2 separate regions of the Homo sapiens genome follow, and region 1 is reported to be linked to region 2. The links are microRNA targets in miRTarBase. Many come from high-throughput screens and were not tested one by one. Region 2 holds a microRNA gene; the other region holds the end of a gene's coding sequence.
Evidence for each region. Region 2 holds the annotated microRNA hsa-miR-6738-5p (CGAGGGGUAGAAGAGCACAGGGG, at 1,059-1,081, shown strand). A microRNA usually pairs through its seed, bases 2 to 8, with sites in the 3' UTR of a target mRNA and lowers its output. Matches are read on the target gene's strand: a 7mer-m8 pairs with bases 2 to 8, a 7mer-A1 pairs with bases 2 to 7 and ends in A, and an 8mer does both.

Region 1: the mRNA of RPL7L1 is a reported target of hsa-miR-6738-5p. Seed matches in the 3' UTR shown: 7mer-A1 at 3,308-3,314.

Annotation. Positions count from the first base shown.
Region 1 is chr6:42,885,665-42,889,063 of GRCh38, forward strand. RPL7L1 (ribosomal protein L7 like 1) reads left to right here. Exons shown (of 6, transcript NM_001366481.3): 5 at 310-419; 6 at 592-3,399. The coding sequence ends at 800. Among named protein-coding and RNA genes, the nearest start is that of PEX39, 3.5 kb to the right of the region's middle.
Region 2 is chr1:155,948,991-155,952,389 of GRCh38, reverse strand. It overlaps MIR6738 (microRNA 6738), which reads left to right and starts at 1,054; the gene lies at 1,054-1,117. It overlaps ARHGEF2 (Rho/Rac guanine nucleotide exchange factor 2), which reads left to right. Exons shown (of 22, transcript NM_001162383.2): 16 at 155-274; 17 at 404-471; 18 at 614-649; 19 at 857-907; 20 at 1,118-1,561; 21 at 1,908-2,091.

The DNA of each region.
Region 1 (3,399 bases), not on the chromosome of region 2:
CACCTAAGGCCAGAGTCGTAGCCCCTAAGGTAAGCTAGGACATGGTTTCTGTTTTGTTTTTGTTGGCAATATTTTCCCTGGTGAACATTTACATCCATAAATTTAAATTTCTAATTATGTAAGTGGGGTCACTTCAGTTCTTTATCAGGAGTATTTCCAAGCATTTCAGCTGGAATGTGATTGCAGAACACTTGCTCGTTGGGAGAAGTGAGTGTGTGGGAGAACCTCTCCAACCTCTCAGCCAGGCTGCAGGACTGGTATGTAGTGTGCCAGGTGCTGGTGAAAACCGTGCTTTATTTTCCTACATAGATTTCCAAATCTGAAGTCTGTCCGAGAACTCATTTTGAAACGTGGACAAGCCAAGGTCAAGAATAAGACCATCCCTCTGACAGACAATACAGTGATTGAGGAGCACCTGGGTGAGTGCTACAGCTTAGGGATCAGCTGGGGCAGAAAGCCAGGGTCTTTGAAGCTTTGATGTGAGATTCAGGTTGTATTCTTCTTGGGGCCCCAAGAGTCTGCCAGAGTGGCCAGCTTAGTATATGCTGGATACATGTTAAATAAAGGAATCTGTGCTTTTGTGTTTCTTAGGGAAGTTTGGCGTCATTTGCTTGGAAGACCTCATTCATGAAATTGCCTTCCCAGGGAAGCATTTCCAGGAGATCTCATGGTTCTTGTGCCCTTTCCACCTCTCAGTGGCCCGTCATGCTACCAAAAATAGAGTGGGCTTCCTCAAGGAGATGGGCACACCTGGCTATCGGGGTGAACGCATCAATCAGCTCATCCGTCAGCTGAACTAGACCCAGGTGAGGCAGGGCTGAAAACTGCCCTTGGGCTGACTTTTGATAGGCCATGCCTTGCCACTTTACAAGTTCTTTTTGCATTTACTAGTATTTAAGAGTAACCTTGAGATTGGGAGGAATAGAGGAGGCTGGTACAAATAGATGGAGACCTGCTGGGATCAGTGAATGCCTGATTAGGACATGGGGCTATGCATAGCCTAAGAGTTATAGGCTTAAAGATGTCGAGTAACTAAAAACTGTATTGCTGGCCGGGCGCGGTGGCTCACGCCTGTAATCCCAGCACTTTGGGAGGCCAAGGCGGGCAGACCATGAGGTCAGGAGATTGAGACCATCCTGGCCAACATGGTGAAACCCTGTCTCTACTAAAAATACAAAAATGAGCTGGGTGTGGTGGCGCGTGCCTGTAGTCCCAGCTACTCGAGAGGCTAAGGCAGGAAAATCGCTTGAACCCAGGAGGCAGAGATTGCAGTGAGCCAAGATTGCACCAGTGCACTCCAGCTGGGCGACAGAGCGAGACTCCATCTCGGAAAAAAAAAAAAAAAAACTATTGCTGCAGTCATTCAGATGGAAATGAGGAAAGAATAATATTAATAACTGATTTCAAAAAGGACTTGAAGATGTGAATCATCTATTTTGCTGAAGAAATCTTAACTCTTTGAAATTACTTTTTATTGCTGTTGTCATACTCTTAGGTGCCAAACTGCGGTAAATTTTTTATCAGTGAAGTGGAAGCATGTGTTTTGTTTTGGAAATTTTTATCAAGTATCTTCAGAGAAGATTATTTCCTGCTTTATCTTCAGAAACTGGAAAGGGTCAAAGAAAAGACAGTAGCTGGCCGGTCGTGGTGGCTCATGCCTGTAATCCCAACACTTAGGGAGGCTGAGGTGGGCAGATCACCTGAGGTTGGGAGTTCGAGACCAGCCTGACCAACATGGAGAAATGCCATCTCTACTAAAAATACAAAAATTAGCCGGGCATGGTGGCACGTGCCTGTAATCCCAGCTACTCAGGAGGCTGAGGCAGGAGAATCGCTTGAACCTGGGAGGTGGAAGTTGCAGTGAGCTGAGATCACGCCATTGCACTCCAGCCTGGGCAACAAGCGAAACTCTGTCTCAAAAAAAAAGAAAAGACAGTAGCATATGTTCATGTCAAGCACCTCTCATCACAGTCGAGTTCCAAGGAAAAATTCCAGTGTTTTCTGCATTGGGTGCTGTGTCATCTGAAATCGGCACATTCCATGGAGGAAGGAGTCCTGCTTTGTTGCATGTATCCTAGGGTTTAATGTTGGTAAATGAGTCACTCTAGCATTTGTAGAAGGCTCCCTGAGACTCCTGCAGCAGTCGACCAAGCCCAAGGACATAATTGAATCTGGAGAGTCCTGGGGCCTTGTTTTGAAAAAGACTTGAAATACACATAGGAAGAAAGGCATAAAAATAAATGTTCACTTGTCTCTGCTGTGAGTATGTGTTCCAACTTTTCAGTGATGGCTTTGAGAATTCTCAAACTTGACTGGCTCTAAGTGTATCTGGTGGCTTTTGTATCGTAACCTGAAACTGGCTTAGTACTTTTTCCTAAAAGCTCAGGATTTGAGAATGAGGACCCCTTCGCCAGGAAAACATGTATACACTCAAAATTTTGCTTGCAGTTCTAGGGTGTTTAGACCCTTCTCAGATACCTGTGCATCTTATGGGTTTTGTTTTTCTCTTTGAGACAGTCTCACCCTGTTGCCCAGGCTGGAGCGCAGTGGCATGATCTCAGCTCATTGCAGCCTCCACCTCCTGGGTTCAAGTGATTCTGCCTCAGCCCCTTGATCAGCTGGGATTACATGCATGTACCACCACACCCAGCTAATTCTTGTATTTTTAGTAGAGATGGAGACAGAGTTTCACCATGTAGGCCAGGCTAGTCTCAAACTCCTGACCTCAAGTGATCCACAAGCCTGGGCCTCCCAAAGTGCTGGGATTACAGGCATGAGCAACTGCGCCCAGCTCTTGTGTACCTTATGTGAGGAAGTCCTGCTCAATCAGGATCGGTCACGCAGGCCCTGATCTTGCTACTCTGGTTCCATGTCCTATGGAAGACCAAAGTTTACCAAGATAGATTTTTCCCTTCATAGTGGCAGATAGTGTTAACCCCTGCACCATCTGTAACTCAGAAATCCCCACCATTTCTTCCCCTGGGCTTCAGAATAGAATTGCCTGGTTTCTCTGATGATCAGCATGGTTCCTTAAAACCCAAATCAGCAAGGAATGAACAATTTTGTTTGGCATGGATGAAATTAGCACTGTTTGGCTCGTTAGGCCCCAGGCAGGCAGGCACCTTAATTTTTTCCTTGCATATTCTAGTCTTCAGAAGCATTGCCTTTTGTCCTACTGGTAGTGACATAGACCAATAACAGGGCATCTGGGGATTTTAATCCTGAAAACAGTGAGTCTGATACTGCTTGTGTTTTTCATCAGTGTCCACCCCAAGTGGGTCTTCCTGCTATTCTCTTCACTTAGTTGCCCCTCACTTGCCATCTGAGCAATTGGCAAGGATGTGCCAGGCCTAGGTTAAACTTGGAAACATGCTTGACCATTCTATTCCCTGGTCCTTT
Region 2 (3,399 bases):
CCTTTACCTCATCAGTGGTTGTGTGAGTGAAACCCCACTGCCAGTGCAGGGGGCATTCCCCCAGATGCCCAAGTGTCCCACATGTGGGGGTGAATGGCATTCCCCTCAGGGTCCTGTGTCATTCCTGTTCTCACCTCTTCCTCTTTCCCCACAGTGGAGGGTCTGAAAGACCTGCTGGTGGGGCCAGGAGTGGAACTGCTCTTGACACCCCGAGAGCCAGCCCTGCCCTTGGAACCAGACAGCGGTGGTAACACGAGTCCTGGGGTCACTGCCAGTGAGTACCAGGGCAGGGGACCAAGGTAGTAGGTGGGAGGGGCCAAAGTTAGTAGAGTGGTACCAGGGATCAAGTGGTATCAGGGCCCCAGGGAAGTGAGCTCAGCCATCCTTTTCTCCTTCTCAACAGATGGTGAGGCCAGAACCTTCAATGGCTCCATTGAACTCTGCAGAGCTGACTCAGACTCTAGCCAGAGGGTAGGTCCTCAAGAGGTTCTGGGACTTGGCAAGAGGGTGGGAGAGGGACAGCCAGCCTCTGGATCCTCAACACAAAGCTGTCAGGGGCAGGCACCCAGGATTTGTGTGCCTGCTGACTCCCCATTCTTGCCCATTTCTGCAGGATCGAAATGGAAATCAGCTGAGATCACCGCAAGAGGTGAGATGGGAATTGATGGTATAGGAGACTGAAGGGAGGATGTTCTTAGTCTGAGTAGTTAGAGCCCAGTTTGGAGTGGGGTGGGGAAAGCGTCTACATTCAAGTATGTCTCCGGATCCTACTGTCCCCACACCCACCCTTGTTCAACTTTTGGGCAGTTCTCCCATCCTAAAGCTGGGGCCCTGTTCCCACCCTGTCTGTCCTCAGGAGGCGTTACAGCGATTGGTCAATCTCTATGGACTTCTACATGGCCTACAGGTCAGTAGGACAAGGGCTTGAATGGGGAAGGGGAGGAGCCAGGCTAGAGATGCCTGTTTAGGTGGGGCATGGTCATCCCAACAGGCCTTTCTAAATACCCTCCCAATCCAAGCTCTCCAGGAGCGATGATCTGGGCCTTGGAGGGTGAAGGCGAGGGGTAGAAGAGCACAGGGGTTCTGATAAACCCTTCTGCCTGCATTCTACTCCCAGGCAGCTGTGGCCCAGCAGGACACTCTGATGGAAGCCCGGTTCCCTGAGGGCCCTGAGCGGCGGGAGAAGCTGTGCCGAGCCAACTCTCGGGATGGGGAGGCTGGCAGGGCTGGGGCTGCCCCTGTGGCCCCTGAAAAGCAGGCCACGGAACTGGCATTACTGCAGCGGCAACATGCGCTGCTGCAGGAGGAGCTACGGCGCTGCCGGCGGCTAGGTGAAGAACGGGCAACCGAAGCTGGCAGCCTGGAGGCCCGGCTCCGGGAGAGTGAGCAGGCCCGGGCACTGCTGGAGCGTGAGGCCGAAGAGGCTCGAAGGCAGCTGGCCGCCCTGGGCCAGACCGAGCCACTCCCAGCTGAGGCCCCCTGGGCCCGCAGACCTGTGGATCCTCGGCGGCGCAGCCTCCCCGCAGGCGATGCCCTGTACTTGAGTTTCAACCCCCCACAGGTAAGGTGGCCTGCAGTGGTGAATGGACCTGGGGTGGACATAAGGGTCCATGGAGCCCGAAAGAAATTGGGCCATTGGGGATTTGAGCCCAAATGCAATCAGTCAACTGACTTGAAGGATATTGAGATACTGGTTGGAGAACTGAAAAGAAATGTAGATGGGTGCAGGGGTGGAGGAAATTAACTCGGGTCGTGGTGCTGAAAGAGGCCAGTTGGTGGTGGATCTCCTGAAGGGGACTCATGGGTGAGCCCCAGGGGGGAGAGCTGCTGCCTTCAGCCAAGCAGAACCTCCAATCTTCACACTACTCAGTCCCTGACCTGCTGTTCTTCCTGCCCACTGTCCACAGCCCAGCCGAGGCACTGACCGCCTGGATCTACCTGTCACTACTCGCTCTGTCCATCGAAACTTTGAGGACCGAGAGAGGCAGGAACTGGGGAGCCCCGAAGAGCGGCTGCAAGACAGCAGTGACCCTGACACTGGCAGCGAGGAGGAAGGTAGCAGCCGTCTGTCTCCGCCCCACAGTCCACGAGGTGAGACCCTGGCGGAGACATGGACCAGAGGTAGAGTGCAGCCTGGGTACAGGCCATTGGGCTGTGGCTTCCAAATGGGCCCTAACTGACCTGTGAGGCTTGTAGTAACTCTAGGGAGGGACTTCCTGTTTTGTCTGATGATGAATGGGTGGTGGAAGTCTAGGAAGCAGGAGGGGCCTCTCTCCTCCAACTGGTTGGTGATTCCCAACCTTTAGAAGTAAAAACAGATTCTTTTTTAAAAAGGCATGGCGGCTCAGGCCTGTAATCCTAACACTTTGGGAGGCCAAGGCAGGAGGATCGCTTGAGCTCAGAATTTTGAGGCCAGCCTGGGCAACATAGTGAGACCCACCTTCTCTACAAAAAAAAATTCATTTATTTATTTTTTTATTTTATTTAATTAATTTATTTCATTATTATTTTTTGAGATGGAGTCTTGCACTGTTGCCTGGGCTGGAGTGCAGTGGCGTGATCTTGGCTCACTGCAACCTCTGCCTTCCAGGTTCAAGCGATTCTCCTGCCTCAGCCTCCCAAGTAGCTAGGATTACAGGCGCCCACCGCCACGCCCAGCTAATTTTTGTATTTTTAGTAGAAATGGGGTTTCACTATGTTGGCCAGGTTGGTCTTGAACGGCTGACCTCGCGATCCACCTGTCTTGGCCTCCCAGAGTGTCGGGATTACAGGCATGAGCCACCACGCCTGGCTAAATTTTTTTTTTTTTTGAGATGGAATTCTCACTCTGTCGCCAGGCTGGAGTACAGTAGTGAGATCTCCGCTTACTGCAACCTCCGCCTCCCAGGTCCAAGTGATTCTCCTGCCTCAGACTCCCGAGTAGCTGGGACTACAGGCACATGCCTCCACGCCCAGCTAATTTTTGTATTTTTAGAAGAGATAGGGTTTCACCATGTTGCCCAGTCTGGTCTCAATCTCTTGACCTCATGATCCGCCTGCCTTGGCCTCCCAAAGTGCTGGGATTACAGATGTGAGCCACTGCACCCGGTCTATTTTATTTTATTTTATTTTATTTTATTTTATTTATTTATTTATTTAAGATGGAGTCTCACTCTGTCACCCAGGCTGGAGTGCAGTGGCACAATCTCAGCTCACTGCAACCTCCACCTCCTGAGTTCAAGTGATTCTCCTGCCTCAGCCTCTCGAGTAGCTGGGATTTACAGGCATGCACTACCACACCTGGCTAATTTTTTTTGTATTTTTTAGTAGAGATGGGGTTTCACCATGTTGGCCAGGCTGGTCTCGAACTCCTGGCCTCAGGTGATTCACCCACATTGGCCTCCCAAAGTGCTGGGATTA